Linked DNA regions of Homo sapiens. The protein of the gene in region 1 purifies or fractionates together with the protein of each later gene. This does not show direct contact. Each region holds a gene or a part of one and is shown in the gene's direction. Other genes may lie near its edges. The genes, in order: SLC60A2, ARCN1, FASTKD1, PSMB2, XPOT, XPO5 and SKIC3.

Region 1 (4,870 bases):
TTCATATAAGTGGGATCATACAGTTTTTGTCCTTTCATTACTAGCTTCTTTCCCTTAACATAATGTCTTCAAGGATCATCCTTGTTGTAGCATGTGTTAGAATTTCTTTCCTTTTTAAGTCTATGATACACCATTGTATATACATACTATATTTTGTTTATTCATCTGTCAGTGGACATTTGTGTTGCTTCTACATTTTGGCTGTTGTTAATACGCTGCTGTGAATGTGGGTGTACAACTGTGTCTTTGAGATCTTGTTTTCAGTTCTTTTGAGATATATACCCATAAGTGGAATTGCTGGATCTTATGGTAATTCTATTTTTAATATTTTGTTGTGTTTGTGTTTTTTGTCTTAGATTTTTTTCTTAATCAAGTTTTTCCAGAAGAGAGTAGCTTTAGGAAGAGAATAAACACATACTTTTAAGGTATTATCTCAGACTTTAGGCGCATTATGATCATATCAGTAGCACCCATGTACTGAATAAGTGAACTCAAAGAAAAGTTATGTTGGGCAACTACCTCAAAGTTTTGTTATCTCTGCTTGCAATTTTTGTTCAGTCATTGCACAAGTGCTTGAGGGCTTACTGCATGTGAGGCTCTGTAGACTAAGTATTAATGAACTTTCTTTTTTGTCCTTGCAGTAGCAGGTACAGCTTTGATCTCAGTTTTCTGCCAAATGAATGGTTCTGTGTTTTGTGCTCATTCGTTTACAGAGATCCCTCTGAACCACCTTGGAACCAGAAGGTGTGTGGTCTGAGAACGATAAATGGGCTGCTCTCTGCCTCTCTCACAGCAGTTCTGCCCCTCCTTGGGACCACTCGTTTTCTGCATTCCTGGCCCATCTTCTATATATCTCTGGTCCAGATTCCAGAGGAAACCTGTTTGACTTGAATAGATGCCATTGCCCTTATTGGGCCTTGCCTCAGGAGTTCCTCTGTGTATCTCTGGTCCAGATTCCGGAGGAAACCTGTTTGACTTGAGTAGATGCCATTGCCCTTATTGGGCCTTGCCTCAGGAGTTGCTGGTTAGCCTATGAAGGGGTTCCCTTTGGGTTGATGACATTGCTCCCATCCAGAAAGTGGCTACTTCTACCCTCCTACTCCCACCACTCTGCATGCAGGAGCTGTTATCATCAAAAGGGAATGTCCACTGTCTGCTCTGTACCAGAGAAGTGCTAGGCTTCATAAATATTGGTAATCGATACCTGAATGGGATGAAAATTGGCAGGTCCTGGGATGGATGGCCTGGTTCATCTGCATCAGAACTGGAAAAACAAAATCACACCAAATTGCAGACTTTTTTGGAAGAGCGTGTTAGACAAGGTTTGTGGATTGTTTGATTTTTACCAAGAAAGAAAGCTTTCTCCTAAGAGGGTAAGATTTCTACTTGAGTGAGCTCTAAGAGGAGTCCCAGTTTGCAAGAGATATTATTACAGTTCTCATCTGTGCGGACCAGAAAGTTTTCCAAATTCATGCATTTCAGTTATCTAACAGATATTTACTGAGCATTTACCATGTTCAGTAACCAGGGCCCTGGGAATATAATAGGAGAAGGCAGATGAGATCCTTGCCTTCACCAAGCTTATGTTTTTCTATTTTAAGTAAAATTTGCCATGACAAAATTTCTATCAGCGGAAGAGCCAGTAACTCTTATTGTAATAGGTTTTACCCAGTTTTAGAAAAGGAAAGTAGCTAAACTCTTGGTTCCTTGGTGTGTGTTTTTGTTTGTTCATTTCTAGTACTTGTCTATGTCTTTGGGGTAATTTTTGATTTAGAATTTTGTAGAAATTACTCGGCACAGTGTAGTTGAGGTGAATATAGGCAAGAAGGCTTAGGAAGCCTACAACAAAGGAATCTGACACCAACTTTTGAGATTTATTCAGTCCAGCCAAGAGAATATATTTATGGTCAAACTAGATCTTGGATTACAGCTCCAAAGACCCTTGGGCTGACAGAGCAGGTTCTCATTTCTCAGCTCTTTCCCTTATCACTTGCAGTGAACTCTGCCCCCAGGAGCAGAGTATCCAGTTCTGTGTCCAAGCACTCTATGAATCTTTACCCTTGTTGAAGAAATACTCAGAGACAGAAGCATTTAGAAAAGGAAAAGTTTACCTGCAAAGAGAGCAAGAGAATGACTGGCTTGCCTAATAAAAAACGTAAGTATTTGAAGGAAAAAATTAAAAACTGCCAAGGTTTCTGAGTTTGCATTAGACTGTTCACGGTGAAAAACAGTAACTGCCTCATGTAATTATTGTATTCATAAAGGTTATGGCAAATCTTCAGATGTAGTACAGGAAAAACCAAGGATAAAATTTCTTAGGGAGTCCAGGTTTATGGGAAACATTCAAGGTTTTATTGTTTTTTAGATCATCAACAGTTAGATGACCCTATCATTTTTGTTTTGTCTCAGGGTGCAACGTCTTTCTTTTCTGATGGTGATTGATATAGTTTGGCTGTGTCCCCACCCAAATCTCATCTTGAATTCCCATGTGTTGTTGGAGGGACCTGGTGGGAGGTAACTAAATCATGGGGGCAAGTCTTTCCCGTGCTGTTCTTGTGATAGTGAGGAAGTCTCACGAGATCTTTTGGTTATTATAAGAGGGAGTTTTCCTGCACAAGCCCTCATTTTGCCTGCTGCCATCTATATAAGATGTGATTTGCTGCTCCTTGCCTTCCGCCATGATTGTGAAGCCTCCCCAGCCATGTGGAACTGTAAGTCCAATAAACCTCTTTTGTAAATTACCTAATCTCAGGTCTGTCTTTATCAACAGCATGAAAACAGACTAATAGAATGATATAGGAAGTTCTTAGTCTTACTGAAGCAAGGGAAAGTGACATTTTGCTTCTACACCCTCCAGAATTCATAAGCTCCAGAAGGAAAGAGGACCCAAGGGAAAAACGTGATTGCAAAATGTGTTCTTGTCCTCTGCCCAAGTGATTAACCTTTGCTCCAGTGGTTTTCAAACCTGGCTGCTGTTAGAATCACCTGGCAGTGTTTAAAAATGACTGATGCCCAGCATTTTAACTTAAATACCAATTTGGTCTGGAGTGGAGCCTGAGTATGGATATTTAAAAAAGTAACTCCTCCTCCCCAATCCCCCGTAATTGTAATGTGCAGCCAAGATTGAGAACCACTGCTTTGATCAGTGCACAAAACTGGATCCTCTACTAATGACCGTGGTTTTTTCTTAGGCTTACTTACAGATTGATTAAGTTATGCCACTTTTGTAGATCCTTGAAATTCTGTGCACTTTCTTTCTTTCTTTTTTTTTTTTTTGAGACAGAGTCTCGCTCTATTGCCCAGGCTGGAGTGCAGTGGCGCTATCTCAGCTCACTGCAAACTTCACCTCCCGGGTTCACGCCATTCTCCTGAGTAGCTGGGACTACAGGCGCCCACCACTGTGCCCAGCTAATTTTTTGTATTTCTAGTAGAGACGGGGTTTCACCACGTTAGCCAGGATGGTCTTGATCTCTTGACCTCGTGATCCGCCCACCTCGGCCTCCCAAAGTGCTGAGATTACAGGCATGAGCCACCGCGCCTAGCCTGTGCACTTTCTTAAAGGAAAACTGGAGAGGAAGAGATCTCATGTTTTCTATTCACTCCACTGCTGCTTGGTCCAGTGCAGGAAATATTGCTGTTATTTGAAGTCCTTCCTAAAACAAAAGCTCAGATCTTTTGGAGGTTGCCCTTCTAGGCAGGTTTTCACCAGTCAATTTTGATTTGGGGGGCTTAACAGAGTAGGAATGATCTTGCAGGTTTATTACATCTGAATTTAAGACTACTCACCTAGGCTGGGCGTGGTGGCTCACACCTGTAATCTCAGTGCTTTGGGAGGCCAAGGCGGGAGGATACCTTGAGCCGAGGAGTTCAACACTGCAGTGAGCCATGATCACACCACTGCATGAGTGAGACTCCATCTCAAACAAAAAAAATAGACTACTCACTGTTTACATAGCTTTGTACCATATAAAAACTTGTTTGAATAAAATATTGATAACAATAGTGATGTTGGTTTAAGATTCATGTTTCAGTTGTTTCACTGATTTTTGAATTGATACATAATAGCTATGCATAATTATGGGTTCCCTGTGATAATTCGATACATGCATACAGTGTGTAATGAGCAAATCAGGGTAGTTGGGATATCCATCACCTCAAATGTTTATCATTTCTTTGTGTTGGGAACATTTCACATCTTCTCCTGTAGCTATTTTGAAATATACAATAAACTAGTGTTAACTGTAGTCACTCTACTGTGCTATCAAACACTAGAACTTATTCCTTCTGTCTAACTGTATTTTTGTATTTGCTAACCAACCTGCTGCCCTCTGCTCTGTCCCCTACCCTTCCCAGCCTCTGGTAATTATTATTCTACTCACTACCTCCATGAGATTAATTTTTTAGCTCCCACATCTAAGTGAGAACATGGAATATTTGTCTTTCTGTTAAGTGAAATAACTCCCTTAACATAGTGTCCTTCAGTTTCATCCGTGTTGCTGCAGATGATAGGATTTCATTTTATTATGGCTGAATAATATTTCATAGTGTATATACCACACTTTCTTTATCCATTCATCCGTTGAAGAACACTTAGGTTGATTCCATATGTGGTCATTGTGAATTGCTGCAATAAACATGGGAGTGCAGCTGTCTCTCTGATACACCAATCTCCTTTCCTTTGGATATACACCCAGCAGTGGAATTGCTGTATCATATGGTAGTTCTATTTTTAGTTTTTTGAGGAATCTCCATACTGTTTTATGTGGTGGCTGTACTAATTTACATTTCTCCAACAGTGTAGGAGCATTCCACTTTCTCCACATCCTGGCCAGCATCTCTTTATTTTCTGTTCTTTTGATTATAGCCATTC
Region 2 (4,203 bases), on another chromosome or scaffold:
AGACAGACAGACAGACACACACACACACACACACACACACACACCTTTTAAGACTTTATGCCAAAGTCTTGCTTAAAATGAAGGCTAAGGCCAGGTGCGGTAGCATGTGCCTGTAGTCCAAGCTACTCAGGAGGCTGAGGCAGAAGGATTGCTTGAGGCCAGGAGTTCAAGTGCACAGGCATTATACTTTAGTGTGGGCAACACAGCAAGACCCTGATTCTTTTTTTTTTAAAGACGGAGTCTCGCTCTTGCCCTGGCTGGAGTGCAGTGGTGCAATGGTGCAATCTCGGCTCACTGCAACCTCCACCTCCCAGGTTCAAGCAATTTTCTGGCCTCAGCCTCCCGAGTAGTTGAGATTACAGATGTGCATCGCCATGCCTGGCTAATTTTTGTACGGGGTTTCACCATGTTGGCCAGGCTGGTCTCGAACTCCTGACCTCAGGTGATCTGCCTATCTTGGCGTCCCGAAGTGCTGGGATTACAGGCATGAGCCGCTGCACCCGGCTGTAAGAATCAGGGTCTTGGGCGTGGTGGCTCACGCTTGTAATCCCAGCACTTTGGGAGGCTGAGGCGGGTGGATCACCTGAGGTCAGAAGTTTGAGACCAGCCTGACCAACGTGGTGAAACCTCGTCTCTACTCAAAATACAAAAAAATTAGCTGGGCATGGTGGCGGGCACCCATAATCCTACTACTCAGGAGGCTGAGGCATGAGAATTGCGTGAACCCAGGAGGTGGGGGTTGCAGTGAGCCGAGATCGTGCCACTGCACTCCAGACCGGGTGACAGAGTTAGACTTTGTCTTAAAAAAAAAAAAAAAAAAAAAATCAGGGAGTTAGGCTGGGCGCAGTGGCTCACGCCTGTAATCCCAGCAGTTTGGGAGACTGAGGCAAGCGGATCACCTGAGGTCAGGAGTTCAACACCAGCCTGGCCAACATGGTGAAACCCCGTCTCTACTAAAAATACAAAAATTAGCTGGGCGTGGTGGTACACACCTGTAGTCCCAGCTACTCCGGAAGCTGAGGCAGGAGAATCACTTAAACCCAGGAGATGGAGGTTGCAGTGAGCCGAGATGGCACCACTGCACTCCAGCGTGGGCAGCAGAGCGAGACTCTGTCCCAAAAAATAAAATAAAGACTAGAAGTAGCTAATAAAGGGATTTAGGTTATTGAAATTTATGTACTCTAAAGGATAAGACTTGGAAATATAGCTGCTGATAAATTCTAAATCTTTCTTTTTTATTGGTGTCCACGCTTAGATCCCTGAATATTGCCGAGCCTTAGAAGAGAATGAAATATCTGAGCACTGTTTTGATTTGATTTTTGCTTTTGATGAAATTGTCGCACTGGGATACCGGGAGAATGTTAACTTGGCACAGATCAGAACCTTCACAGAAATGGATTCTCATGAGGAGAAGGTGTTCAGAGCCGTCAGAGAGGTAAATAGGATCTTCTCTGGGACTACCTGTTTGTATGTCTTTCTCTTAGGCTTCACTAATCTCATTTTCCTATTTTTACTTACTAATGTAGACTGTATTCAAAACTATGTCCAGGCTAGGCACAGTGGCTCATGTCTGTAATCTCAGCACTTTGGGAGGCGGAAGTGGGAGTATCACTTGAGTCCAGGAGTTCAAGACCAGACTGGACAGCGTAGTGAGACCCTGTCTCTATAAAAAGTAAAAAAAAAATTAGCCAGGCATGGTAGCACGTGCATGTGGGTCCCAGCTACTTGGGAGGCTGAGATGGGAGGATCACTTGAGCCCAGGAAGTTGAGGCTGCAGTGAGCTGTGATTGTGCCACTTGCACTCCAGCCTGGGTCACAGAGTGAGACCCTGTCTCAACAAAAACCCAAAAAAAAAAGCTACATTAATGTATGTCTTTTTCTGTAGACTCAAGAACGTGAAGCTAAGGCTGAGATGCGTCGTAAAGCAAAGGAATTACAACAGGCCCGAAGAGATGCAGAGAGACAGGGCAAAAAAGCACCAGGATTTGGCGGATTTGGCAGCTCTGCAGTATCTGGAGGCAGCACAGCTGCCATGATCACAGAGACCATCATTGAAACTGATAAACCAAAAGTGGCACCTGCACCAGCCAGGTATAATCCAGTGTACTTTAGAATACCAGGTGAAGGGTGTATATGTGTCTATCTTTGAAGTCATAATCTGATTTCTTGGAAAGCTGTAAATAAAGAAGGACTTGATGAAGTAAGATATGATGTTACATTTGGCCACATACAATATGAGGATAAAGAAGAAATCTGAATGTGGTGTTTTTCCTTTTGTATAAAAGAGAGTTATAAATTATGTCATGACCTCAGTTTCCTATGAGAGTTGCCTTATTGTGGGGAGGAAAGGGCTATTTAATGCTTTATGGAATGTAGATTTTTAATCTTGATGTTCATTGATTGATTTTAGGGGAAATCTGTGAATTACCCAAAATTATATACAAAATTTTGTGCACAGGTGTATTTCTCTGGACGGGAGATACAAAATTTTCATCAGATCATGTGTGCTTGTAAAAATAAACCTTTGGGTAATGAATTTCAAATTCTTCCACTTAGGCCTTCAGGCCCCAGCAAGGCTTTAAAACTTGGAGCCAAAGGAAAGGAAGTAGATAACTTTGTGGACAAATTAAAATCTGAAGGTGAAACCATCATGTCCTCTAGTATGGGCAAGCGTACTTCTGAAGCAACCAAAATGCATGCTCCACCCATTAATATGGAAAGGTAAGTAGGAACTTTGAGTAAGAATTCAAGCTTTGAATACAGTCCACATAATTTTTTAAAAATCTTATTTCAGTGTGCTATAAATTCTTTCTCTGTCTTTTAATCGTTCCTGATTTAAAAGATTTATTCAGAGCAGATTCTACATATTAACATAAGATCGTTTTTGGTTTTGTTTTGTTTTATTTACTTATTTTTTTTTGAGATGGAGTCTCACTCTGTCACCCAGGCTGGAGTGCAGTGGTGTGATCTCGGCTCGCTGCAAGCTCTCCCTCCCAGGTTCACGCCATTCTCCTGCCTCAGCCTCCCGAGTAGCTGGGACCACAGGCGCCCACCCCTACGCCCGGCTAATTTTTTTGTATTTTTAGTAGAGATGGGGTTTCGCCGTGTTAGCCAGAATGGTCTCGATCTCCTGACCTTGTGATCCGCCTGACTCAGCCTCCCGAAGTGCTGGGATTACAGGCGTGAGCCACCACGCCCGGCTGTTGTTTTGTTTTATTTTTTTGAGACAGGGTCTTACTATGTTGTCTAGGCTGGCCTCCAACTCCTGAGCTCAGTTAATCTTCCTGCCTCAGCCTCCCAAGTAACTGGGATACAGGCATGCGTTGCTGCACCTGACCTTTTCCTTTTTCCTTAAACCATGATTGGGGGCCCTCAGCCACCTATTTTCTATGAAGTTTAGAACTTTCCTTTTACAGCTAAATTAAAGTTACTTGTAGTCACACCTGGTATATAGCGTATCTCTTAGAATGCACTTGAATTAGGGGACTAGAGCTATGGTGACCCCACACTGTATTTTGGCATGACTTTTTCTAATTAAAGTCTAAGTAGAACCAATCTTTAATCCAAAACTTGTAGATATCTTTAATAGCAAATTAATATATTTTGCATTTTTATTTTATTTATTTATTTTTTTGAGATGGGGTTTCACTCTGTCACCCAGGCTGGAGTACAGTGGTGCAATCTCAGCTTGTTGCAACCTCTGCCTCCCAGGTTCAAGTGATTCTCCCACCTCAGCCTCCCAAGTAGCTGGGACTACAGGCATGCACCACCACGCTGGGCTAATTTCTGTATTTTGGTAGAGATGGGGTTTTGCCTTGTTGCCCAGGCTGGTCTCGAACTCCTGGACTCAAGCAATCTGCCTGCCTCGGCCTCACAAAGTACTGGGATTACAGGCGTCAGCCACCATGCCCAGCCATCTTTTGCAGTTTAAATATTTGAAGCCAGTATGGAATATTTTGATTCATCTCTTATCTCAGGGCTGTGGTACTGGTTGGTGACATTTTTAAGTGGTAGTTATCAAGTTCACATATTCGTGACTCAGATTTCTCGTCTTGAAGCCAGACCTTCTACTGTTGCTGATGGTTTTGAGGTCAAGTGAAAGATAATACCAGGAGGATACCTTTATCAGGTGTGCATAAAAGAGGAGTATTTACTCTTTTTCTTTCTTCTTTCCTTTCTTTCTTCCTTTCTTTCTTTCTTGAC
Region 3 (4,203 bases), on another chromosome or scaffold:
GACAGATAGTGAAGGATCTTGTCTAATCATGTCGTAGACAGAACTAGAGAGGACTAGGATTGCATGGATTTCAATCCTTGAGCAAGTTCTTCTGAACCTTGTTAACTTCTTCATCAGTGAAATGGGGATAATAATGCCTACTTGATAGGATTAACTGAGATATTGCATGTAAAGCATTTAACACTATCCTTGGAACATAGTAAGTGCTCAATGAATTTATTTTTATTTTAATTTTTTTATAGAGACAGGGTCTCACTATGTTGCTGGTCTCAAACTCCTGGGCTCAAGCGATCCTCCTGCCTCAGCTTAGCCTCCCAAAGTGTTGGGATTACAGGTGTGAGCCACTGTGCCCAGCCCAATAAATCTTACTTGAAAAAAAAAAAAAGGATGTTTAGTCTGAAAAATAGAAGTCTTATGGGGACCATAATGTTTTAAAATGTTTGAAGGATTGTTAAGTAGAAGAACTAGATATCTCTATCTCAAAGATGAACAAAATGGTAAAAATGAAAGGAAGCAGACTTTAACTTGGTATAATGAGAATTATTGACTGCTTTCTGAAGAAGTAATGTTGAGGCAGAGGCTGAGTATTCAGATGATAGATGTGTGTGATTTTTGCACTGGGCAGGAAGGTGAACTAGATAATCATTAATGCTCTCATCTTGTGCTATAAAACACAACTTTCCTTTGATTTTATGTTAATCAGGATTGAGTTGGGTATGAGTGACAAAAATCCATAAATTGGCTGGGCACAGTGGCTCATGCTCATACACATAGTCTCAGCACTTTGGGAGGCTGAGGTGGAAGGATAGCTTGAGCTCAGGAGTTTGAGACCAGCCTGGGCAATGTAGTTAGACCCTGTCTCTAAATAAATAAATAAACAAATAATAAATAAATAAATAAATAAATAAATAGCAGGCATGGTGGTATGCCCCTCTAGTCCCATTGCTCAGGAGTTTGAGACCAGCCTGGGCAATATAGTAAGACCCTGTCTCTAAATAAATAAATAATTATCAGGCATGGTGGCATGCCCCTGTAGTCCCATTAGGAGGCTGAGGTGGGAGAATCTCTTGAACCCAGGAGTTGAGTCTACAGTGAGTTACAGTCACGCTACTGCACTCTAGCCTCAGTGACAGAGCAAGACTCTGTCTCTAAAACAAAACAAAACAAAACAAAACAAAAAACAAACATTGAAGCTGGGCATGGTAGTGCAAGCCTGTAATCCTAGCTACTTTGAGAGACAGAGGTAGGAGGATCACTTGAGCCCAGAAGTTTGATACCAGCCTGGGCAATATAGTGAGAAGCCATCTCTTTTTAATATTTTTCTTTTTTTCTTCAGAACAATATGAATATAACCCCATCTCTTAAAAAAAAATTACATGAGACATGCTTAACATAGAAAAACTAGAAAAGGAAGATAACAAAAAAGAAAAATTACCCATGATATAGCCGCTGTTTGCTTTTGGTGTCTGTTTTCCTAACTTAAAAAAAAAAAAGACAAAAAGGTTTTCTTCTGTAGTGTTTGTGTTTTAGTCCTTTTCTGCTGCTACAACAAAATACCTGAGACTGGTTAATTTATAAACAACAGAAATTTGGCCGGGCGCAGTGGCACACGCCTGTAATCCCAGCACTTTGGGAGACAGAGGCGGGCGGATTACCTGAGGTTGGGAGTTCGAGATCAGCCTGGCTAACATGGTGAAACCCCATCTCTACTAAATATACAAAATTAGCTGGGCGTGGTGGCGCACGCCTGTAATCCCAGCTACTCCTGAGGCTGAGGCAGGAGAATCGCTTGAACCCGGGAGACGGAGGTTGCAGTGAGCCGGGATCGTGCCACTGCACTCCAACCTGAGCGACAGTGAGACTCTGTATCAAAAAAAAAAAAAAAAGAAAAAAAAAAAACAACAGAAATTTATTTTTCACAGTTCTGGAGGCTAGGAAGTCCAAGCTCGAGATACCAACAGGTTTGGTATCTACTAAGGACCTAGCCTCTGCTTCCAAGATGGTACTTTGAATGCTGTGTCCTCCCATGGCAGAAGGGACAGGAAGGCAACAGAGGATGCTCTTTTATAGGGTCACTAATCTTATTAATGAGGGCTCTGCCCTCATGACTTAATCGTCTCCTAAAGGTTCTGCCTCTTTTTTTTTTTTTTTTTTTTTTTTTTTTTTGAGAAAGGGTCTTGTTCTGTCACCCAGGTTGGAGTGCAGTGCAGGAGTGCAGTGGCATGATCACGGTTCATTGCAACCTCTGCCTCCAGAGCTCAAGTGATTCTCCCACCTCAGCCTCCTGAGTAGCTGGGTCTACAGGCACACACCACCACACCAGGCTAATTTTTGTGTTTTTTGTAGAGATGGGGTTTCACCATGTTGCACAGGCTGGTCTTAAACTCCTGAGCTCAAGCAGTCCTCCTGCCTCTGCCTCCTAAAGTGCTAGGATAACAGGTGTGAGCTACCACGCCTGGCCTAAGGTCCCACTATTATTATTAACACATTGATGATTATGTTTCAACAGATGAATTTTGGGGGACACATTTAGATCATAGCAGTTTATAACTTTATATGTTGTGAATATTTTTCTATGCCAACAGATATGCTTATACAACATCTTTTTTAGTTACTGCATATTTCATTGAGTATGCTATGATTTAATCAATCTGTAAGATTTTTTTGCTGGTATGTCCATCTGTCAAACAATGCTGCAATTTCATATAACAACAATAATAGGTTTATTTTTATATATTGCTTATTATGTGTTAGACACCATTTTAAGTACTTCGTAAGTACTTGTGTGTGTGTATGCATATAGTAAACTTATATCCCTATGAAGTATGTAAATTATTTGCAGATGAGGAGACTAAAGTCCACAAACATTATTGATTGCCCAAGGTTATATACCTGGCAAATGACAGAGCCAGGATTTGAGCTTGGCATTCTGGCTCTAGAATTCATTCTCTTAATGAATTCTATATATTTCATCTTTCATAATTAATTTAAAGATGGTTCAGTGCCTGAGTTTTTCACCAGAGTTCCATCTGATTCTTTTCAAATCACAGACATCATTTCAGGAAGTATATTTAAAAGATAAGAATGACTTAAAAAACATAACAACAATATCATCTTTATCATCCTATAACCATTAATAATAATTTCTTAATATCTTTTAAGAAATGTTCAGCAATATGGGAAATTTAACGTAAGTAGACAGATGGGAAATTTTAGATAAAATTTAACATTTTATTGAAATGTTAGATTTGGCATACTATAATGAACTCAATGATCAAGGATTGAAGGTAGTAGAATTATGGGAAATGTCACATAAGTAGAGAGATATGGGAAATTTTAGATAAAATTGAACATTTATGGGAATTATGGGAAATGTAACATAAGTAGGGAGATATGGGAAATTTTAGATAAAATTTAACATTTTATCGAAATGTTAGATTTGGCCTACTATAATGAACTCAATGGTGAAGGATTGAAGGCAGTGGAACCTATTCCTCATACGTCTCATGCACTGCACCCCTATACCTTTGCTTTTCCTGTTTTAAGTGTCTTTTATGTTTATTTTATAGTTTGTCCAAATTGGGATCTTAACATTCCACTTGGTTGGTTTGCAGTTTTTGGTTCAACTTTTCCTTTCCTACTTCTTTTTTTAACTTAAAATTTGAGAATAAGTTTTTTTTTTCCACATTTCGAACTTTTCTAATTGCAGCCCTGTGATAACATTTAAAATGTCATCTGATAGTTTTTAATGTTTTTACTGTAAACCTGGGTTTGCTGTAAACCATTAGTGATATCTAGAGATTTGATTAGATTTTAGGTTTTTTTTTTAGGTTTTTCTTTTTGGCCAAAAACTTCATAAGTGGCTTGTACTTCTTTCTGCATCCTCTCAGGAGGCACACAAGGCTGGTTGTCTTTTTCTTTTTCTTTCTTTCCTTTTTTTTTTTTTTGTCTGGCTCTGCTGCCTAGGCTGAGGTGCAGTGGCACAAGCATGGCTTACTGCAGCCTTGACCTCCTAGGTTCAAGGGATCCGCCCACCTCAGCCTCCTCAGCCGGAGTAGCTACCACTACACCTGGCTTATTTTTTAAGTTTTTTGTAGAGATTGGGTTTTGCCATGTTGCCCAGGCTGGTCTGGAACTCCTGAGCTCAAGCAATCTGCCTGCCTCGGCCTCCCAAAATGCTGGGATTACAGGTGTGAGCCACTG
Region 4 (4,203 bases), on another chromosome or scaffold:
ACAGGCACGCACCACCACGTCCAGCTAATTTTTGTATTTTTAGTAGAGACAGGGTTTCACCACGTTGACCAGGATGGTCTCCATCTCTTGACCTTGTGATCTGCCCACCTCGGCCTCCCAAAGTGCTGGGATTACAGGCGTGAGCCACCACGCCCAGCCCATATTTTCATTAGAGTTTTCTGTGTTTAAGAAGTTGTCTAGACCCTAAAGATTCTAATCCTTCATAAAAGATTTTCTACAAAAATCCTAGAGCAGAGAACTGTTGTAACACTGATAGCTGATAGATAAAACTAACACCATCGGCCTGGTATGATGGCTCATGCCTGTAATCCCAGCAATTGGGGAGGACAAGGTGGGAGGATCACTTGAGACCAGGAGTTTAAGACTAGCCTGAGCAATGTAGTGACACCTCATCTCTACAAAAAAAAAAAAAATTTTTTTTTTTTTTGAGATGGAGTTTCACTCTTGTTGTCCAGGCTGGAGTGCAGTGGCACAATCTCGGCTCACCGCAACCTCTGCCTTCCAGGTTCAAGCAATCCTCCTGCCTCAGCCTCCCAAGTAGCTGGGATTACAGGCATGTGCCACCACGCCTGGCTAATTTTGTATTTTTAGTAGAGACAGGGTTTCTCCATGTTGGTCAGGCTGGTCTCAAACTCATGACCTCAGATGATCTGCCCACCTCGGCCTCCCAAAGTTCTGGGATTACAGGTGTGAGCCACCACGCCCGGCCTTCTACAAAAAAGTTTTTAAAAATTAGCTGAGTGTGGTGGCATGCACCTATAGCCCTAGCTACTCAGGAGGCTGAGGCAGGAAGATCGTTTGAGCCCAGGAGGTCGAGGCTGCAGTGAGTTATGATTGTGCCACTGTACTCTGGAAGGCAGCAAGACTCTGTCTCTAAAAAAAATTTTTTTAAACCAACCAAAAAAAAAAAAACCCAACACCATCTTGGAGGTAGGGATGGTAGTATCAGACTTTTTAAGTGTTAGATATCTCAGAGGATGTGGTTTGAGTTTAAAAGTATCTGAACCTGGCCAGGCACAGTGGCTAGCACCTGTAATCCCAGCACTTTTGAGAGGCTGAGATGGGAGGATCACTTGAGGTCAGGAGTTTGAAACCAGCCTAGGCAACAAAGCAAGACCCTGGCTCTATAAAAAATAAAAATATTTACCTGGGTGCAGTGGTGCACACCCATAGTCCCAGCTACTCAGGAAGCTGAAGTGGGAAGATCACTTGAGCCCAGGAGTTCAAGGTCTCAGTGAGCCATGATAGTGCCACTGCACTCCAGCCTGTGCGACAGAGTGAGACCCTGTCTCAAAACAAAGAAACAAAAAAATCTGAATCTCAGCGTCAAAAAACCTAAGTAAACCTTGGCTTTACTATTTTTTATGTGATAAGTCATTTATCTTCTCTGGGACTTTATTTTCCTTATCTCTGAAATGAATTATAATACTAATGAATAATACATATGAAAATATTTTGTAAACCTAAAGCATTGTGTAACTAACTATAAGTATTTACTGTGCCATAAAAGGGTTCTGCCTTACTCTCTGGTAGGTTTCCTTCTAGAGAGATAATTAAGACTTTTGTGAAGTATTTTGTGAGCTCTCTCTGGGGCTAATGAACTCTTATCCACTGGGAAAACCTCCCTAGCAAACGATACTAGCCACTAGGCCTCTGATCCAGGAATGTTTGTAGTGGTGGTCTGGCAGAGAAAACCTTATTTCCACTTACCTCACAGTTCAATAACAACGTTATACACTGCACTGGTATAATATGGAGCTATGAAGGAAGTTAATTTGAATATACTTGCATGTGTAAAATGACCAAAGATCTATTCACATAGTTTGGGCAGTGGATTTAGCATTTGTATTCAATTCCATAAATACTTTTGAGGGCCTCTTCTATGGTAAGCATTCTGCTTAATACTTAAGAGAATTCAAAGATGAATAAGGCTTAGTCCTGACATTCAGGAACATAAAGTACATGGTACTTAGGTTTATGCAGGTTTAGAATATTTCAAGAATTCTGCTTTTTTTTCCAGTGGTTCCACTTTTTGCCTGCATAACAAATGAAGTATGTCAGTAATGCTTCTGAAGTCCAGTAGGTACTGTATGACTTCACTGGCTGTCCTGAGAGAGGGAGAAGAGTGAACAAGAGTAGCAAGAGTTGTTTGTTACTGGGTTTTAGGGTCTAAAGTCAGTGCACAGACAAAAACTGTGTTTGGTTAAAATTGCCCTTAAAGACCCTTAAATTACCTGCCAAGTACAGTTTTGTGTATGTAACTCTATATAGTAATTCTTATATAAGTTAAAGAACTGAGCTAAAATAAGGGAAAGAAAGAGAAAATCTATATGCAGATAATCAGGCATGACTTTTCTGCCTTTAGGATAATGGTCAGATCTTCAGTGGTGTTTAGGGGGTTAAGTAAAGAATTGAATAGTATTCCCACTTGTCTAGGTTCCTTCTTTTTTTTTTTTTTTCTTTTTTGAGTCAGGGTCTCGTTCTGTTGCTCAGATTGGAGTGCAGTGGTGCAGTCTCAGCCCACTGCAACTTCCAGCTCCTGGGTGCAAGTGATTCTCGTGCCTCAGCCTCCTGAGTAGTTGGGATTATAGGCATGCACCGCCATGCCTGGCTAATTTTTTGTATTTTAAGTAGAGACAGAGTTTCGCTATGGTGGCCAGGCTGGTCTTAAACTCCTGTCCCCAGGTGATCCACCCACCTGGGCCTCCCAAAGTGTTCTGGGATTACAGGTGTGAGCCACTGTGCCTGGCCTCTTTTTTTAAATTATTATTATTATTTTTGTTGTTGTTGTTGAGACAGGGTCTCACTCCTGTCGCCTGGGCTGGAGTGCAGTGGCACAATCATGGCTCATTGCAGCCTCGAATTCCCAGGCTCAGGTGATCCTTCCACCTCAGCCTCCCAACTACCTGGGAAAACAGGTGTGCACCACCACCCCTGGCTAATTTTTATATTTTTAGTAGAGACGGGGTTTCATCATGTTGCCCAGAATGGTCTTAAACTCCTGGGCTCGAGTGATCTGCCTGCCTCCGCTTCCCAAAGTGCTGTGATTACAGGCATGAGCCACTGCACCTGGCCAAGGATTGCTTTCATTATGATTTAATATGCACTAATAGACTTGTGAGGATAAAGTACAATAATACATGTGAAAACACTCAGCATAGACCCTGAAACATAGTTGCTGCTCAATAAATATTTGTTAGGATTTGAATCTGAATCTCTCCTAATTTGACAGTGGTATTTGAAATGTTGTAAGCAATTACTTAACCACACTGCTGTGTGTCTTTCCATACTGACATTTTCTGTGTGGGCCCACTGAGTTATGGATCATTCTTGTGCCTTTTGGCACTGGTCCCATTCTACAGGGGGATTAAGCTCCAAAGTGAATGCGTTATTACATGCACACCTGATGCTATTCCTCTGGGTTGTACCTTTGTTGGTATGACAACTTTTATTTTTGAAGTTTTAACACTTGAGATACTCTATTTTTAAAAATACTGCAGAATGATGGAAATGTTCTTTTTCTGTGGCTTATACTTTTGAAAGTCATATTATACTTCTTAATAAAGTAACATTTAAAATATTTTTTTAATAAACTATGACTCTGAGGTAGTCCTAACTTCTAGCCTCTCTTTTCCCAATATCCTTTTTGTTCCTGTTTTCGTTTTTTTAGAGACAGGGTCTTGCTCTGTCACCCATGCTGTAGTGCAGTGGCACAGTCATAACTCACTTGAACTTCTGGGGTCAATTGATCCTCTCCACTCAGCCTCCTAAGTAGCTGGGATTACAGGCATGTACCACCATGCCTAGAAATTTAAAAAAAAATTTTTTTTAGAGATGGGGGTCTCACTATGTTGCCCAGGCTAGTCTCAAACTCCTGGGCTCAAGCGATCTTCCCACCTTGGCTTCCCAAAGCTCTAGGATTACAGGCATGAGCCACTGTGACTGGCCCCCAATATCCTTTTTAAAATAAACTTTTAAAAGATTGGCATCTAAGACGCCTTTCTTTTTTTTTCACTTCTTGTGTATTCGTGTTCCTTTCCTTCTACGGCAGAAACCACAGTGTGTTGATGAATGAATAGTTTAAGCAAGGCTGCTAGAAGTTTCATTCCACTATAGAACTGGTTCTGTTTGTGGCCAAGAATTGCTGTCAGTACTAACCAGCTATTTCATAGCTGTTGCATG
Region 5 (4,203 bases), on another chromosome or scaffold:
AAGCTGTTTTAACACTTACCTTAATGATTTTTTTTTTATTTTAATTTTTTTCTAGAGATAGGGTTTCACCATCTTGCCCAGGCTGGTCTCGAACTCCTGAGCTCAAGCGATCTGCCCACCTCAGTCTCCTAAAATGCTAGGATTATAGGCATGAGTCACCCTGCCCGGCCACATTAGTGATATTTAACTTTCTTGTTATTTGGTCTAGGCAGACATAAATAAGCAGTTATGATAGGTTATGTCTTAAGTAAAATGGTTACATGACAAGAATCCATTATAAAGTGCTGGGATAGTTGGATAAATGTAAACAATTAAATATAATGTAGCCTACAACTATAATCATGACTATAGCTGAATGATAGAAAAATATAAAGAATGAGCCTATAATTAATTTTTTTTAAAGACGTGGGCATTTGGAACTATAGGGTAAGTGGAAAGGAAAGAGGCATTTTCTTTTTACTTTTCATAGCAAAGAATACTTTTTATAAATGAGCTAAATGAGGTTAACAATCTCACTAAAAATTATAGCAGTTTTTATTCTTATTTTAAGAAAAAAATCTTTTAAAGCAGTAAAAAACAATCCCAACTAGTTTCTAATACAGTACCATGTGCATGTCTCTGCTACTAAATAAGTAACGAGCCCTTCAGATACAGGAAAATAATAGGAATTGAGATTTAAGTATCTGGCTAATTACAAGATACCTATCAAACAAGTTAGGACATCAAAAGACATTTAAAATCCATGTCTTCTGTGTGTAAACAAATCTTTCTTGTCATAGGGTTTTATGCTACCTACCTTCAAACATAGTTGAAGTATCATAGATCTTTACCTTTAGTCTAGCTTGGTATTGCATGCTTGTAATTAAAAGCCTTTGACTGTATGTTTAGTTATTAAATGGCCTTTACTGTTATTTTTATGTGCCTCTTGAAATCTTTCATTTCTTAAGTTCCAGCATCCAATTTTTGGATGAAAGAGGCATTTTCTTTGCCTCTTAAGTTCCAGCATCCAATTTTTTTAAATGTGCCATGATTTCTTTTTCAGAAAATTAAAACCAATACATTATTAGTGGTTTTAATACAGAAGCTCTGCTTTTTGTCAGTAAAAATGGGTTCTGTCACATACGTGTTTTAAGCATCCAGGTCCAGGCATAATTCAGTATCCATTTAGCCAATCTGAATAACAATTTATTAGGATGAAAGGGAAGAAATCTTAAAGTGAATTCTGAAAGCCCTTTTGTTGCAGTTCGGGAGTAGTGGAAACTTAATTCAGTTTGGTGGTGAGAAGAATGACTGTCTGCCAACCCCAATTGCTCAGTTGTCTATCTGTAATTCTCTGTTTTTTACATGGGCAATAAAAGTTGAACTGACTCTTGTCACATAGAGTCAGTCAACCATTAGAAAAAAGGTATGGGGTAGAACTAGGTGGTGAAAGCTAGGACTTGTTTGTCAGTGTTGTAGAATTTTGTTTTTTTAATTGTTAGTAATGCATAGATTCAGAATACAAAGGCTTTGTTTAAAAACTAAAAACTTCCACGTTATCTCTCCTCTCCTTCCTCTCACCCCTGCCCCGCCCCCCGCCCTTTTTTTTTTGAGACAGAGTCTCACTCTGTTGCCCAGCCTGGAGTGGAATGGCACCATCTTGGCTCACAGCAACCTCCAACTCCCGGGTTCAAGAGATTCTCCTGCCTCAGCTGGGATTAGAGTAGCTAGGATTAGAAGCACACACCACCACGCCTAGCTAATTTCTGTATGTTTGGTGGAGACGGGGTTTCACCATGTTGGTCAGGCTGGTCTCAAACTCTTGACCTTGTGATCTCCCTGCCTCAGCCTCCCAAAGTGCTGGGATTACAGGCATGACTCACCGCGCCCAGCCTCCTCCTTTTTAAAAAATAAAACACTCGTCTTTGGCTTAAAACCTGTTATTATTTAAAGAAAATGGTATGTCATGACATTTCTAGCAGCTGAAACCACCTCTCCCCTCTTTTGTAAGTGAAATATTAGGTGGTAATGCAACATACATGATTAACTTCTACCTTGTCCTCTGGCCTCTGAGATATTCCTAAAGAATACCCTATGTTTCATGGACTGCTGTTAGAAACAACTAAGCTAGTACTATCTTTTATAGCTGCCTGTGTTCTTATAGTCTTAACTTCTAAAGAGAGACATTATTTACTCTGGGCTGTTTTCCAATACCAACAACCAACTCTCTTGATTTCTGTGGACACCAACTGGGTGTCCTACAAATCAATTCAATTCTGACACTACCAGGATTAGCATCACATCCCACAAGTTATGGGCTCGGTCTTACAAACCGCCCCCACTTAAGACACTAATTGAGTCCAGAACCTCTCATATTTCTGATGATGGAGTAGCCTACAGAACTTAGAAAAACAGTTGACTTTCTTGTGCTGATGAAGGATCCACCTCATGAGCAGCCACATGGAAGCGATGCATAGGGCAAAGTATAGGGGAAGGGGCACAGAGCTCTTGTGCCCTCTCTAGGAACACCACCCTCTCTAGGAACACCACCCTCTCAGCATCTCGATGTGTTTGCCAACCTGGAAGTTCAAGAGTTTTTATAGAGCTGAATCTTGAGTCCCTTCTCCCCTTCCCAGAGGTTGGTGGTTAGGGTAAAAGTTTCAACACTCTAATCAGTTGATCTTTCTGGTAACCAGCTGTATCCTGAGGCTGTCTAGTGTTCCCACACCAAGTTACCTCATTAACATAAACTCTGTTGACCCCGAAGTCTCTAGTGATCCTTCCACCTTAGCCTCCCAAGTAGTTGGGACTGTAGGTGCACGTCACCACTTCTGGCTAATTTTTAAATTTTTTGTAGAGACAGGGTCCCACTATGTTGCCCAGGCTAGCCTTGAACTGCTGGCCTCAAGTGATCTTCCAGCCTCAAGTGATCTTCCCACCTTGACCCCCCAGAGTGTTGGGATTATAGGTGTGAACTGCTGTGCCTGGCCCAAAGGACTCATTATAAATAACAAAAGACGGTCCTGTCGCTCAGGAAATTTTCCAAGAGTTTTAAGGGCTCTGAGCCAGCAACTGGCTGCAAAGCCCAAATGTATTTTTTCGTTATACCATATATTTAATATTATATTTGGTGATCTTCACCTAATCATCTTCATTTACCTGGTCTTCTGTCAGTGGGAGCAGCCATTGAGACCATGTATGAAAACCCATTCCCTCATTCATACAGTTACATAGTATAGGAAACTATCACCTAAATATAAATACAGTGGCTTTGATCTGTAACCCAAAGAAAAAAATAACTTTACATCTCGATGACCCAGTGTGTGTGTATATATTTATAGGTACATATGCACATAAATAACTAAAACAAGTTACAGAAAGTAATATTCTTGCTAGGGTATAGTACAGAATATCTAATATTCTCTATTTCATTTTTAAAAATTATTGTTCAGGACCCATAAACTGATTTCATCACTAGTGGGAGACACCACCGTTTTAAAAATATTTACCAATTGAAATTAGGTTTCTCTAAGGCTAATGTTTCTTTTACCTCATGTCAGCTTTTGTTTCATACATAATTGCTGTCAAATCATCTAGCAGTGCTTCCAGTTGATGTGCAATTTTCTTGTCTATTGGAGATACTTGTCACAAGATGTTCACTACTATTTGTCCATTGCCATGTGTGAAACCTGCATCTGGTGCAACATGCTGATGGGAAGAGTGCCTGAAGTAACTCCCATTTTCCCAACAGTTTGGTAGAGAGCGTATGGACTTGGTGCTGCATCCATTCTAGAGTACTCTTGCTCCTTGTTGGCACTGTTACTTGTGATTACAAGGCCCTGAATTCATAAACTTAGAGATAAAAAACTTCCTCGAGCTTTGACCTTTTCAGTTACTTAATATTTTTCAAAATTCATATCATGCACTTGTACTCCAATTTTAATCTCTTTAGGGAACTTACATGATATAATTAAAGACTTGAAATACTCTCCTGTGTAACAGTAGATCAGATAAGGTACACAGTATGTTTTATCTTTTATAATCACCGCTTTAATAGCAGATGTGCTATTAAATAGGAAAAGTGCCCTTCACGTGCCATTTTATAATTGCATATTATAAAATGATCACACCCTTAACTCATCCTCTGCAATTTCTCAGTAGTATGGCACTTGACAAAGCACTTGCTCTCATTCTTCATAATAACCCCATGAAGGCTGCGGGGCA
Region 6 (4,203 bases), about 68 Mb from region 1:
TTGAGAAAAGCAGATGCAAATCACAACCCTTTTTGGGGCATGGGGTTATAAGAAATTTAACATTACTCCAGATTACAAATTATCCAGAAATTTCTTCTCTGAATGCACAGCAGTTATCTCCATATATATATAGATATACATATATATCTATATATATATATAAAACAAGCTGATCTTTTCACAGTTGTAGTATGGGAAAGTGCAGTTATCCAAATACTCAAGACAAGAGCTATCTTCCGCCTAAATTGCCTTGCTTATTTAGGCAAAATAAAGACATATAACAGAATTACCAAATAATAACCTTATAGGCCTGACTTTCCTGGGACTGCTTTGGTTTTCTTCTTTCTTCCTTGAGTAAGCCACCTCTCCTTGAAAATCAGACCTTTACCACCTCTGGCTTTTTTTCTTTTTGATCTGTAGCCCAATTTTGACATGCTTTATAACCATGTGAAGCAACTCCTCTCCAATGAGCTACTCCTGACACAAATGGAGAAGTGTGCCCTCATGGAAGCCCTGGTTCTCATTAGCAACCAATTTAAGAACTACGAGCGTCAGAAGGTGTTCCTAGAGGAGCTGATGGCACCAGTGGCCAGCATCTGGCTTTCTCAAGACATGCACAGGTAAAGGAGATCCCTTGCCCTGACTCTTACTATACTCAAGCACCCATTTTGGTTTAAGAGCTAGGCCCAGGGTGGGGTAGGGGTTAAGGATATTGAAGTGTGATGGCATTATCCATGATATCTGAAGTTCTCTAAAAGCAGTCTTTTGTAATTTAATCTCTGGTTCAATTAGATTGTGGGTGGGGAGGGCACAGAGTGAGACTCCTGTGGTGTCTGCATTGCAGCACCAGCACATTTAGAAAAATGAGAACAGCTAGGAAGGGCCATACAACCACACAGACACTTATCTGTGCTCACACAGTAGAGAAATTATTTTCTTTATATTTTGAAGATTATATTCTTGTTTAATTCTTAAATTGTTACTAATAATATTTGGGAGTGGGAAGGGAAATTTAAACCTTCAAATGACAACTGACAATTAGTATGATTATACTCCTCTCACTATAAAAACTGCTCTTAAGGGCCAAATAATGATAGCCTGTTAACTCCTGTGGAAGAAACTGTCCTTGTTTAAAGTCATGATGTAACTTGTTTTTCCCCCTCCAACCTTCAGAGTGCTGTCAGATGTTGATGCTTTCATTGCGTATGTGGGTACAGATCAGAAGAGCTGTGACCCAGGCCTGGAGGATCCGTGTGGCTTAAACCGTGCACGAGTAAGACTTTCCTGGGAATGGGAAGTGGCATTGGCCATGGGTAGGAGTAGGGTGTTGTCTTTTGTCAAGTTTCTCATAGATTTGTTTTTTCTATACTGGTGAGAAACGTGGGAGTCTCCACTTCCCTAAGCTTCTCCTTTCTTTTCTTCTTTAGTCTTGAATTCTTGAGTTAGTTCCCACAGCAGAGCAGATGGTCTTTTCTATGAAGTCATTATTTTGGCTTTAAGGATCTCTAAATAGCTCTGAAGACTGAAGGTGTAATGAGGAAGTAGGTCAGAACTTGGTCAGCAGGGTGAGTCCTCCCTGCCATTGCTCTCTGGCATGTAAAGTCTTAAGTGATGGCTTAACTTGCAAACCTGAGATTTTTCAGTGCTTTGCTATTTAAATAAGCATTGTTCCTGGCTCCATTATGGCACAAGTCCCATTAATTAACCTGGCAAGTAGTAGGTTGATTCAGAGTACCGTGAGGGGGGATTAGGACACTAGCTGTCAAGGCCCAATAAGGGTCAACTCAAAGAAGATGAAGTGATGGCATTTTAAACACTTTGTTTTGGATCGTATCTAAGCCACCTTCTCATCAGGGTCCTGTGGGTGGGTCACTGCAGCTCCTAGAAAGACAGCTTACTGCAAGGGAAGTTTCCAGAGCCTACCACTGGCCCTGAAAATGGCAGTGAGAGGATCCCTCTTGGACTTCACCTTAAAGGAAGGGATGGGGGATTGCCGGGGAGCAGAGGATTATTTCATTCTCTCTGGCCTCTGTGTCACTTTTGCCAGAACCTTGAATATATCTAACAGTATTTGGTCTTTTTTTTTTTTTCCTTTTAATATTTATCTGTCATTCTTATTTTTCTATAGATGAGCTTTTGTGTATACAGCATTCTGGGTGTGGTGAAACGAACTTGCTGGCCCACTGACCTAGAAGAGGCCAAAGCTGGGGGATTTGTGGTGGGTTATACATCCAGTGGAAATCCAATCTTCCGTAACCCCTGCACAGAGCAGATTCTGAAACTTCTTGACAATTTGCTTGCGCTTATAAGGTGAGTCAGAATAATGGCTTTTCTCTGTTGTTTTCTACTTTACCTTAAAAATTTCAAAAGTTTAGTCTGTTTACATGTCTTCATATCTTAGTGGTATTAATGAGGGATTGATTTAAGTCTTATTTCTTTCTAGAGGGTGTCTCAGTTTTAAAAAAAATAACATCAGCTCTCACTTGCATAAATCTTAATTTCCATGTGAACCCAAGGGGATAATCCCAAAAGGGCTTTTCCCATTTTGAGCCTCCTCTTTGTTGTTCTTCCATTTCTTTATACTTCATCCCTATTTTTACTTGTAAGTTTTATTTGGTCTAAATTTTTTAGTAAAGGAATTGCTCATTGGGAGCAGGGCAGTTGCCTTCTATAATGATGCTTGTCTAGGTGGTATTCATATGAGCTAATCTGAATTTATCAATACTGAGTCTGAGCTCAGATGAACCAAACAACCGCTGGCTGAACATGCTAAACAAAGGAATTATAAATTTTTCATCTGAGTTTGCTAGATCCTTGGTTCTCAAAGCTGAGTCCTAAGACCAGTAGCATTAGCATCACCTGAGAGCTTATTTCAAAGGCAGAATCAAGGCCCCACCCCAGACATACTAAATCAGAATCTGCATTTTAACTAGATGCCCAGTGGTTTATATACACATTAAACATTCAGAATCACTGTTTTAGATCACATGAGTTAATATATTCAAGTGGAAGTAGGCCAGTATAGGCTTATCAGTTACTAGATATAGATATTTGATGACTCAGGGATGGTCTCTAAATGAAAAGATAGGTTTTTTTATATAATTCAGTTATTGGCCAAAGAGTGCTTTTTGTATCTCACAGGATTGGTTTTTTTTTTGTTTGTTTGTTTTTTTGAGACAGAGTCTCACTTTGTCACCCAGGCTGGGAGTGCAGTGGTGCAATCTTGGCTCACTGCAACCTCCGCCTCCCAGGCTTAAGCGATTCTTCTGCCTCAGCCACCCAAGTAGCTGGGACTACAGGTGTGCACCACCACTCCTGGCTAATTTTTGTATTTTTAGTAGAGACAGGGCTTCGCCATGTTAGCCAGGCTGGTCTCGAACTCCTGGCCGCAAGTGATCAGTCCACCTCGGCCTCCCAAAGTGCTGGGACTCCAGGAGTGAGCCACCACACCTGGCCTCTCACAGGATGTTTAAATTACATTGTTAGAGCTCTGTTTCAGTACTTTTTGGCCCCTTCTCCAAGGAGTAAAAGCAGTCTCAACGGGGCAAACCAAATTATTCATGTCGCAGTGAAACTCTCCTGGGAATAGACACCCAAGACCTGAAGCCTGAGAACCAAAGATTTTAAGTTAATGTTGACAAATTGGAGGGCTGGAGTGTCTGATAAAGTTGTCATTGTGGACATGTCTGTGGAAATAGACAATATTTTGGCGGGGTGTGGTGGCTCACACCTGTAATCCCAGCACTTTGGGAGGCCAAGGTGGGTCAATCACTTGAGGTCAGGAGTTTCAGACCAGCCTGGCCAACATGATGAAACCCTGTCTCTACTAAAAATACAAAAATTAGCTGGGCATGGTGGCACATGCCTGTAATCCCAGCTACTCGAGAGGCTGAGGCAGGAGAATCGCTTGAACCCGGGAGGCGGAGATTGCAGTGAGCTAAGATCACGCCACTGCACTCCAGCCTGGGCGACAGAGTGAGACTTCCATCTCAAAATAAATAAATAAATAAATAATATTTTCTTTTGATTTCTAAAGGAGGAAAGAGATCTCTGAAAAGAAGTAGGACTTGTACTGAGAGGGTTAAACATTTAGTCAAGAAGAGGCTTATTTCTATCGTGATGTTTTTATTAATAGAGATGGGGTTTTGCCATGTTGCCCAGGCTGGTCTCGGACAGCTGAGCCTGCTTCAGTCTCCCAAAGTG
Region 7 (4,203 bases), on another chromosome or scaffold:
CTGATTGAGACACTTCCCTCAGTCACTCATTTTTTTGTTAACACTGGTAAGCCTTGGAAGCTGGAAGATCATTAGCTATTTATTGAATATGTATTATCCAGTAAGTGTTGGGTATATAAGAAGCTCTGAAAATATAAGACTTACGTCTAAGAATTTATTGAATTGGGAGACATAATTGAATTATGTCTATATAGGATAATAAAAATAATATTTGTTAAGTTGCAGTTGAGTAGCTCAGTTTGGAGGTTTGGAGGAGGGAGTGATCCCTGTTGTAGGCTGTACTCTAGTATTCATGTAGTGTAGTAACTAATATGAAGAGGGTACTCATGTTTGATGATAGCTGTCTTGAGGAATACAGATGCTTCTTATGGTGGGTTACACCATGATAAACCCATTTTAACTTGAAAATATTGTACGTCAAAATGCATTTAATATGCTGATAAGCCCATCGTAAAGTCAAAAAATTGTAAGTTCAACCATTTGTAAGTCAGGGGCCGTTTGTATAGGTAAGAAGTTTACTTCTTGAGAGAGCAAGGAAGAAGGAGGTTGCAGGACGGTTGGGGATTTGAATGTGTAGGGAAAATTTTTAACACTGAGTTATCACACTAGTTGTTTTAGGAATGGCAAGTAGCAAAGTTGATTGAGAGAATAATAGTAGATAGGACATTATTAGTATAGATTATGTCCAAGTACTCCATCTATGTGTGTATCAGGTAAGTGATGTAATTCTTACTTTACCAGTGAGGAAATGGGCTTTGAGTAATGAAGTCATGTACCCAAGGCCTAATGGCTTTGATCCTAGATCCATTTGATTTCCTAAGCTCACTCTCAACTAGGGTAAGCCTTGGTGGGTGGATATGACAGAGTAAAGGGGCTGACAGGATCTAGGGTACTTTGTAAGAACAGAGTTGAAGTGACTGAGTGATAAAACTAGATTGGGTGAGGAGGGCAGCCAAGTGTTAGCAGGGCTAAAGAAGCCAGTGAAATAGTCAAGTTTGTACTTTTTTTTCTTTTTTAACTATTATCTTACTTTCCTAAACATTGTTTGGATTACCATACTTTCTTTTCTTACCAGTAAGACTTTCTACTGTTGGAGTGACACTTCTATTTCGGTAGATCACTAATGAGTGTTTTGGTTAGGGAAACTTTTCATTCCTTGTTCATCCCTACCTGCCTCACCTAAACATTGTTTACTTCCTAGTTCTGAAGTAGCATGTTTTTTTTCACTTTATTCAGTTTTTCAAAACCACTTCCATTCTCTGCAGGGACCATTCTAGATTGTTTTTTGTTTGACAGAAGCCACTTCAGGGATGCTATCAAAATATCCTTAGAATTTGTAGATGTGTAGTTGTGTTACTATTTTTAATGACTATTTAAATGCATTGTTAACATTAAAAAAATTTCTCTGTTTTCATTAGATTACAAACTAATATAATTGTATTATATTATACTCCTTATGTTCCTTAGAGAAAAGTTCTATTCTAATATAATTAGGCTGCAAATTGGGTGTAAATAAGTACCCTTAGTTGTCTGTAGATGTCCTTGATTCAAAGCAAAAATGGCACAGAAATAGTAGATATTCTTCTTTGGCTCTATTTTTTTATATTGACATCAGTGTATTTTGGGTTTCTGAAATGGTTTCTCAAAATCCTTCTGATCTCTTGTAGAAGTTTCCTTTTATCATCTGAGGCCCAGGAATATAGTTTAGACCAATTCAGAAGTTTGGAGATTAAGAATAGTGTCTCTCTGGGAAAGAATAAAAATACTAAAAATTATACATAATTATTTCTCATGTTTTAAATTATGAATTATGAAAATTGATGCGTTAAAAAGTTTAGAAGGTTTTGGGTTGTGGGTGTCATCCTTTTTATATGATTGTCTCATACTTGTTTTTGTTTAATTTAGATGGAAAATGGGTAAGGAACAATCAAATTCAATTCGGGAAGAATATAGAGGTGGTAATAATTGGTAAAAGGTAAGTGTCTACAATGCTAAATAATAAATTGGAATCTATTTTTACTTAATGATTGTTTTTACTCATTCCTTTCAGAAGAAAGATTTAATGGCATAGTTTTTTTTTTTTTTTTAATGTCAGACTATGGGTCATTACAAAATACCTTTTGTTATTAGATTTAAAGATATCGTTTTTTTTCCTTTCTGTAATTAGCTTCCGTTGTCATTATCATTACTATTTATTATTATTGTTGTTTTAGCTTTGTGGAATCTTTGTATGAGCATATTGGAATATTATTTAAGGTTTCATAGCCTCAACTGGGGACATATATATCATACCTATATATGTTGTCCTTGAGGAATATCATTGCCTTTATGGCATGACTGTCACTTTCTAACTCTTTTTAAGTGCAGTTGTTGCCACTTTTTATTCTTGATTTATGTTGGATAAAAATATTTTGGGTTGGTAGTAGAAAAACTTGAGTGAAAACGTACAAAATGAATACTCTTATTTAAAAAAAGACAGTTGAGATTGAGGAGAATAGTGGGAGGAGAGGTATAAGGCGGAAAGAATTAATAGGGAGTTATATTGTGGAAGAATATTAAAGACATCTCCCTCTCTTGCAAGAGAGCTAGATGTTTCTTTGACGTGTTAGAAATCCTTACAATGAAGGGAAATATCCAAAATAGAGGAGTATGGGGTTACGTGGAATCATTTTGGGTAGTAGGTTTTTACCCTCGGAAGGAAAATGGGTTTAAGTGGTACCTAGTAGATGGTTGGATCTCAATAAGGGTTTGTTTAGAAAATTGGTGAATGGACGTTTCCCTTTCCCCTCAAAAATAAAAATAAAAATTAAAAAAAAAGGAAGTAGTAGTTTTTAGGGTTGAAAAGGGGCAGATTATTTTGTCTTTTTACAAATTAAACTTCTGAAACTTACGTACATATATGTGTGTATGCATGAGTGAGAGAGGACCTCAGTGCTAGCGTATTGTGTTAAATGTTGCATCAAATGAAGAAGGAATTGGAAGAGAATAGAGGGTTCCATTGTAGCATGAAGAATTGTAATTACATATGGAGACATACAGATACTGAAGGACATTTAATATTAGAATTGATTACCAAGAGAAAAATGGTGTTTGTTTCTATATAGTGGTCTTTAAAAACAACCTACTTAAAAATTACTAATGGCTTCCTATTTGCTGCTGTATTTAACTTCACACTTGTCTGTTTGACTTTCAGGATCTGTAATCTGAGGCTCTATTTACCTACCCAACCTAATTTTCTTCTGTTTAATAAGTCCCTTCTGATCCATTCAGCCTGGCTTTCTCACTGTTTCCTATACTTGCCACAACTCATTCCCACTTCTGTCACTTTGCTAATGCATTTGCCTCTGAGTAGAGCAATTTTCCTTCTTCACTCCATTTTTAAGTCTTGTCATCTTCTATTAATAGAAGCCATTAATAACATCACACCACACACCTTTCCTTCTCTAAATTCCTATTGCACTTCCACTCATTACCCTTAGTTTAGCATTTGATTATTGAATGACTTATATGTCTTAAGTCTTTCTCTTGATTTAGATTATATTCTTTATATATTTTTTATATCGTGCACAGCAAATAGCTTGGGGGCTGCATGTAGTTTAGTAGTGGTTGGTCCTGCCTTGTTTGTATACATACCCTCATGAATGTTGGGTGATAGAAGAGATGGTGAACTTCCTCCTTATGTAATGGTTGTGGTCTTTTGTTTGTTTTTAATTTGAGACTGTTTTTGTTCCTTTTCAATTTGGACATCTTTTGATTTTTTTACTTGAGTGTCTCTTTTTGTCTCTTTTTATTGATCTAGATCAGTTGTCATCATCCTTGATGTTATTTTCTTCTTTTTAGTCTGCAGGGTTTTTTTTAACCAAAGGAAACTGGTTTGAGAAAATTGTGAAATCAGCATTGAAATTTGTTACCTACTCCAATCAAGATTTGCAAACTACAAAAAAATCATTCTGAAGCTTTCACCTATAAATATATACCAAGATAATTTCAGATAAGGTAGTAGTTTCTAAAGCAAGAACATATGAAATATGGTGCTTTAAATTATATAATTATTGTAACTAGGCAAAAAAGTTACTTATCTGCCTATTTAGGGAATCTGGTTCTAGCTGTAGATAAATTGATTTTATGGTATCTTAATTTTTCTATTATTTTGAATCCTAACATTTTTTAAGTCAAAAAGATTAAAAAATATGTATCTAACTT

Evidence for each region.
Region 2: the proteins of SLC60A2 (region 1) and ARCN1 purify together in Homo sapiens (affinity purification with mass spectrometry; one large-scale study listed by BioGRID and IntAct). This does not show direct contact.
Region 3: the proteins of SLC60A2 (region 1) and FASTKD1 purify together in Homo sapiens (affinity purification with mass spectrometry; one large-scale study listed by BioGRID and IntAct). This does not show direct contact.
Region 4: the proteins of SLC60A2 (region 1) and PSMB2 purify together in Homo sapiens (affinity purification with mass spectrometry; one large-scale study listed by BioGRID and IntAct). This does not show direct contact.
Region 5: the proteins of SLC60A2 (region 1) and XPOT purify together in Homo sapiens (affinity purification with mass spectrometry; one large-scale study listed by BioGRID and IntAct). This does not show direct contact.
Region 6: the proteins of SLC60A2 (region 1) and XPO5 purify together in Homo sapiens (affinity purification with mass spectrometry; one large-scale study listed by BioGRID and IntAct). This does not show direct contact.
Region 7: the proteins of SLC60A2 (region 1) and SKIC3 purify together in Homo sapiens (affinity purification with mass spectrometry; one large-scale study listed by BioGRID and IntAct). This does not show direct contact.

The regions. Positions count from the first base shown.
Region 1 is NC_000006.12:111,276,004-111,280,873, forward strand, and holds the end of SLC60A2 (sodium-dependent glucose transporter 1), read left to right. Parts: 3' UTR 1-4,002; downstream 4,003-4,870. UniProt on the Homo sapiens protein: May function as a sodium-dependent glucose transporter. Potential channels for urea in the inner medulla of kidney.
Region 2 is NC_000011.10:118,581,924-118,586,126, forward strand, and holds part of ARCN1 (coatomer subunit delta), read left to right. Parts: intron 1-1,255; coding exon 1,256-1,435; intron 1,436-1,885; coding exon 1,886-2,091; intron 2,092-2,556; coding exon 2,557-2,721; intron 2,722-4,203. UniProt on the Homo sapiens protein: Component of the coatomer, a cytosolic protein complex that binds to dilysine motifs and reversibly associates with Golgi non-clathrin-coated vesicles, which further mediate biosynthetic protein transport from the ER, via the Golgi up to the trans Golgi network.
Region 3 is NC_000002.12:169,532,147-169,536,349, reverse strand, and holds part of FASTKD1 (FAST kinase domain-containing protein 1, mitochondrial), read left to right. Parts: intron 1-4,203. UniProt on the Homo sapiens protein: Involved in the down-regulation of mitochondrial MT-ND3 mRNA levels which leads to decreased respiratory complex I abundance and activity.
Region 4 is NC_000001.11:35,631,505-35,635,707, reverse strand, and holds part of PSMB2 (proteasome subunit beta type-2), read left to right. Parts: intron 1-4,170; exon of another isoform or gene 4,171-4,203. UniProt on the Homo sapiens protein: Non-catalytic component of the 20S core proteasome complex involved in the proteolytic degradation of most intracellular proteins. This complex plays numerous essential roles within the cell by associating with different regulatory particles.
Region 5 is NC_000012.12:64,410,452-64,414,654, forward strand, and holds part of XPOT (exportin-T), read left to right. Parts: intron 1-4,203. UniProt on the Homo sapiens protein: Mediates the nuclear export of aminoacylated tRNAs. In the nucleus binds to tRNA and to the GTPase Ran in its active GTP-bound form. Docking of this trimeric complex to the nuclear pore complex (NPC) is mediated through binding to nucleoporins.
Region 6 is NC_000006.12:43,544,678-43,548,880, reverse strand, and holds part of XPO5 (exportin-5), read left to right. Parts: intron 1-420; coding exon 421-620; intron 621-1,173; coding exon 1,174-1,273; intron 1,274-1,427; exon of another isoform or gene 1,428-1,565; intron 1,566-2,128; coding exon 2,129-2,310; intron 2,311-4,203. UniProt on the Homo sapiens protein: Mediates the nuclear export of proteins bearing a double-stranded RNA binding domain (dsRBD) and double-stranded RNAs (cargos). XPO5 in the nucleus binds cooperatively to the RNA and to the GTPase Ran in its active GTP-bound form.
Region 7 is NC_000005.10:95,548,353-95,552,555, reverse strand, and holds part of SKIC3 (superkiller complex protein 3), read left to right. Parts: intron 1-1,905; 5' UTR 1,906-1,975; intron 1,976-3,840; 5' UTR 3,841-3,996; intron 3,997-4,203. UniProt on the Homo sapiens protein: Component of the SKI complex, a multiprotein complex that assists the RNA-degrading exosome during the mRNA decay and quality-control pathways.